Regions from separate parts of the Homo sapiens genome. Here region 2 is linked to region 1. The links come from fine-mapping of genetic effects on gene expression. A gene starts in region 1. The other region holds a variant in brackets. All regions are shown on one strand. Distances are between the middles of the regions.

Region 1 (2,748 bases):
TTGCTTAAATACCACCTTCTCCGTGCTACCTTCCCAGATCACTCTATTTAGGACTGAAGCCATTCCTCCAACACCTCTGCTTATATTTTTTTCCCATAGCACACATACCAGCATGTAATATAGTTTTTGTTTTACGTATTCTTTTGCATATTATCTTTCCCATCCTGCTAGAATGTAAGCTCCATGAAGGCAGGAGTTTTTGTCTCTATTTTGTCCACTGATGTCTCCCCATATCAAGAATAGTGTTTGGGGCCGGGCGTGGTGGCTCACGCCTGTAATCCCACCACTTTGGGAGGCCCAGGCGGGAGGATCTCTTGAGTCCAGGAGTTCCAAACCAGCCTGGGAAACATGGCGAAACAGCCGGGTGTGGTGGCGCGGGCCTGTAGTCCCAGCTACTCGGGAGGCTGTGGTGGTAGGATCACCTGAGACTGGGAAGTCAGGGCTCCAATGAGCCGTGATCCTGCCACCGCACTCCAGCCTCGGTGAGAGCAAGACCCCGTCTCAAAAACAAACAAAGTGGCATATAGAAGATCTATAAGATTTGACTGGAGTAAAATGAGAAAGATCTAATCGTTTTAATGCGCTGTTCACACGGGGTTTTTAACTTCGGCACGAACGAATGAACAAAATCTTTTCATATGGAACCAAGTGTACGGGTATTTGGGGTGTGTGCAGTTTCCGCGGGACAGAATGACCTGTCCTGGTTTGGGTATTAACTTGCCTTGATATTGAAGAACCTCCACATTCCCAGTGGTCTCTAACTCATTGTCTGAATAATTTCAAGGTGTCCCACAGTTGGCCCCACGCATAGCCTCAATCACGATCACTCGCCCCCCTGTCCCTTATTGATGCTCCCCCAGGGCGACCCCGCAAAGGCCTGGGGACCGAATGGAACTGCCCCAGTCCCCCTCCTTCCAAGAGAGCTGGGGTTTTCTGGCTTCGGGGTCAGTTGGAAAAGAGATTCCCACCCAAGTCGCAGGGTGGGAGTAGGGGGGATGAGATAGGAGTGATGAAGGAAGTGTGTCTAAAATTCTAGGCCTCAGGCCCGCAGCTGTCCCTGGAGGCGGCGGGGAAGCGGGGTGGTCGGGTCCTGCGGAGGGCTCCCAGGGAGGCCACAGGGGGAACCAAGGGGCGGTGGCTGAGTGCACGAGTCCCGCCCCTCCATCTGTTGGCCCCCTACTCTCAAAGGGAAGCCTGGGGGCGGGGTTTGTTTACTCCGTGCACGCACTGCCGGCCCGGCCAATCCGTGGGGAGCGGCGCCAGGCGTCGCACATTCTGAGGGCCAATCGGCGCGCACTGTGCTGCTCCGCCGCCAAAGCTCGCGCGGGGGAAGCGGGGCTGTAGCTGGGCAGGGAGAGGGCGGACGAAATCGGTAGCGATCTCGGCTGCGGCGCTGCCGCAGCTGCCCGGCCCGCGGGGCGCGCCCTGACCCTTCATCTTTGGGCAGGCTCGAGGGCGCGCGCACGGTTGGCGTTCTGGGGCCTCAAACTCCTGGGCCTTGACCGGGCAGGCCGCGTCTCCCCGGGTGTGAGTCCACCGGGACCCGGCCGCCGCCTAAGCGCGGGCGCCACAGAAGCGGCGGCGCCCGAAGACGCGCTCCTGGCTCGGCCCGACAGCCTCGCTTGGCCGCCAGTTCTTCTGCAGCCGAAGGCGGTAAGGTCTGGGGCGAGGGCGCGGGCCCGCGCGCGGAGGGCCTTTGGACCCGGCCGGGCGCGTTCCTGGGTAGGTTTCCCTCCCTGCGCACAGGGGCCCCCTTGTTCCCCCACGAGTCCCATCTGTTTAGACCTGGGTTCTCCAGGCCTGGCCGGGTAACCCGTGAGTGTCTGGGCCAGAGTCGAAAGCAGAGGAGGGTCACCCTCTTAGTGCATAGAGCAAATCGGGGGAGGTAACGTCCCTGAGTCACGCCTCGTGGAAGAGGGGAAGGGCTGCTTTCTACTTTCTCGTTCTCTTCAAAGAAGGATGGCTTCTAAATCTGGTTTTCCGATTTTTCCCTTCTCCTTTCATGACTCACAGGCCTCTGTGTCCACCAGGTGTTTTGTTTGTTTTTAAAGAGTTTCTAAGCTTTGTGTGCTTGGAAGAACCTCATATGCCCCATAAAGGAACTTTTCTCTGAAGTAGAGGATCGCTTTTTGGGCCCAGACTCCTTTGAGAAAATCTGGAAAGCCAAGGTCTGTCTTCACAAAGAAGTGTAAGGGTTTTCCTAGGATCTCGCTGAGAGACAGTACAACGAAGTGGATGAGCGCCCCAGTCTCTCTTACCAGCCTGTGCTATCTCCCATTGTGTGATCTCGGTTTCTTCATCTGTAAATTAGATGCATCCACCTATTCGGTGTGTTTCGGGGAGTGAATGGACTAATGTATGGAATGCAATCGTAAGAAAATCCTCCACGTATTAAATGCCTTGCATTAGTTAGGCACTTTTATTATTGACTGCCATGGATGCTGGTTTAGAAAAAGACCCTATATTATTTCCCTTTTAGTGTTGAGACAGTGAACGGGCTCATTCCTTTTCCATATTCACTGCTGAAGCTGCCTTTGAGCCCATGAATACTTTTATCTTTTCCTCATTCCATCTCAGAGGGCACAGACTCCCTCTCACTTATTTGCTTTCTTTCAGTAAGGCTCTCTTTTAGCTCAGCCTTCTCCTTCCCCTGTCTCCCCGAGATCTGAGTTTTGTGTCTTTTCATTTGACTTGCACAACCTACTTTTTTTTTTTTCTGGGCCATGTGTTTTCTCTTCATGGCTTGAA
Region 2 (2,748 bases), 67 kb after region 1:
GTCTAGTTTCATTCTTTTGCATACGGATATCCAGTTTTCCCAGCACTGTTTATTGAAGAAACTGTCTGTTCTCCAGTGTATGTTGTTGGCACCTTTGTGGAAAATGAGTTCACTCTAGGTGTATGGATTTATTTCTGGGTTCTCTATTCTGTTCCATTGGTCTATGTGTCTGTTTTTTTGCCAGTATCATGCCATTTTGTTTACTATAGCTCTGTAGTGTAATTTGAAGTCAGGTAATGTGATTCCTTCAGTTTTGTTCTTTTTGCTCAGGATAGCTTTGGCTATTCTGGGTCTATTGTGGCTCTATATAAATTTTAGGATTGTTTTTTCTATTTCTGTGAAGAATGTCATTGGTATTTTGATAGGATTGCATTGAATCTAAAGATTGCCTTGGGTACTGTGGACATTTTAACAATACTGATTCTTCTAGTCTATGAATATGGAATACCTTTCCATTTTTTGTGTCCTCTTTAATTTCTTTCATCAGTATTTTATAGTTTTTATTGTAGGGATCTTTCATTTCTTTGACTAATTCCTAGGTATTTAATTTCATTTGTATCTACTATAAATGGGATTACTTTTAATTACTTTTTCAGATTGTTCACTGTTGCCATTAGAAAGCTACTGATTTTTGTATGTTGATTTGTGTCCTGCAACTTTACTGAATTTGCTTAGCAATTCTAATAGTTTTTTTGTGGAATCTAGATTTTTCAAAATGTAATATATTATCTGCAAACAGGGATAATTTGACTTCTTCCTTTCTAATTTGAATGGCCCTTTATTTTTATCTCTTGTCTGAATGTTGTAGCTAGGACTTCCAGTACTATACTGAATAACAGTGTTGAAAGTAGGCTTCCTTGTTGTGTTCCAGATCTTATAGGAAAGGCTTTCACTTTTTCCTATCCTGTATTTTACTAGCTGTGGGTCTGTCATGTATGCCTTTTATTATGTTGAGGTACGTTCCTTCTGTACCCAGTTTTTTAGGGATTGTATCATGAAGCGATGTTGAATTTTATCAAATGCTTTTTCAGCATCAGTTGAAATGATTATATTGTTTTTGTCTTTCATTTCATTGAAATGATATATTACATTGATTGACTTGCATTCATTGAGCCATTTTGCATCTCTGGGATACATCCCACTTGGTCATGATCAATGATCTTTTTAATGTGTTGTTGAATAC[G/A]GTTTAGTAGTATTTTGTTGAGGGTTTTTGCATCAGTGTACATCAGGGATATTTGCCTGTAGTTTTCTTTTTTTGATGTTTCTTTGTCTGGTTTTGGCATCTGGGTGATACAAGCCTTGTAGAATGAATTTGGAAGTATTCATCTCTCCTCCATTTCAATGGTCCCCAACCTTTTTGGCCCCAGGGATTGGTTTTGTGGAATACAATTTTTCCATGGACTGGGGTGAGGGGTGGTATGGTTTACAGAATGATTCAAGTGTATTACATTTGTTGTGCACCTTATTTCTAATATTATTACATTGTGATATATAATGAAGTAATTATACAACTCACCATAATGTAGAATCAGTGGGAGCCCTGAGCTTGTTTTCCTGCAACTAGGTGGTCCCATCTTGGGGTGACGGGAGTCAGTGACAGATCATCATCAGGCATGAGATTCTCACAAGGAGCACACAACTTAGATCCCTCACATGCACAGTTCACAACAGGGTTTGCACTCCTGTGAGACTCTAATGTCGTGGCTAATCTGACAGAGGTGGAGGTCAGGTGGTAATGCAAGCAGTGGGGAGCATCTGTAAATACAGATGAAGCTGCTTTCACTCGCCCGCCACTCACCTCCTGCAGTGCATCCTGGTTTCTAACAGGCCACGGACCAGTACCAGTCTGTGGCCCAGGGGTTTGGGACCCCTGCTGTACTTTTTGGAATAGTTTGAGTAAGATGGATATCAGTTCTTCTTTAAATATTTGGTAAGATTTAGCAGTGAAGTTGTCAGGTGCTGGGCTTTTCTTTACTGAAAGCCTTTTTATTACTGCTTCAATCTTGTTACTTGTTATTGGTCTGTTCAGGTTTTGGATTACTTTATGGTTCAGTGTTGGTAGGTTGTATGTGTCTGGGAATTTATCCATTTCTTCTAGGTTTTCCAATTTATTGGCATATAGTAGCCATGTTGCTCCTAGTAGCCACTAATGAATTTCCGTGGTATCAATTTTAATGTCTCCTTTTTTGTCTCTGATTTTATTTATTTGGGTCTTCTCTCTTTTTTTCTTAGTCTGACTAAAGGTTTGTCAATATTATCTTTTCAGAAAACCAACTTTTTGTTTCATTGATCTTTTGCATTGTTTCCTGTGTTTCAATTTGTTTTATTTCTGCTCTGATCCTTATTCTTTCTTTTCTTCTACAAATTTTAGGTTTGGTTTGCTCTTGCTTTTCTAGCTCTTTAAGATGCATCATTAGGTTATCTATTTGAAGTTTTTTCACTTTTTTGATGTATAAGCACTTATACCATCAACTTCCCTCTTAGTGCTTCTTTCACTATATCCCATAGGTTTTGGTGTGTTGTGTTTCTTTTATCATTTGTTTCAAGTACATTTTAAATTTCTTTCTAATTTCTTTTTTGACCCTCTGGTCAACTGGTAGCATATTGTTCAGTTTCCATATCTTTGTACAGTTTCTAGAATTCCTCTTGTTATTGATGTCTAGTTTTATTCCATTGTGGTCAGAGAAGATGCTTCATAATATTTCAATTTTTTGAATGTTTTAAGACTGTTTTGTTACCTAACATTTG

What was found. PIP is the estimated chance that this variant, and not a neighbour inherited with it, causes the effect. A credible set is the group of variants that fine-mapping cannot tell apart.
Region 2: its variant is the best candidate, but not a certain one, in a credible set for the expression of TFDP2 in whole blood (TOPMed, PIP 0.55).

Annotation. Positions count from the first base shown.
Region 1 is chr3:142,148,088-142,150,835 of GRCh38, reverse strand. TFDP2 (transcription factor Dp-2) reads left to right here and starts at 1,292. Exons shown (of 13, transcript NM_001178139.2): 1 at 1,292-1,653. RefSeq lists silencers at 1,017-1,066, 1,177-1,386, 1,447-1,516, 1,747-1,796 and an enhancer at 1,147-1,647.
Region 2 is chr3:142,081,075-142,083,822 of GRCh38, reverse strand. The region is part of intron 3 of TFDP2 (transcription factor Dp-2); the gene reads left to right. Among named protein-coding and RNA genes, the nearest start is that of TFDP2, 67 kb to the left of the region's middle. The variant G/A (reference allele first, on the strand shown) is at 1,184.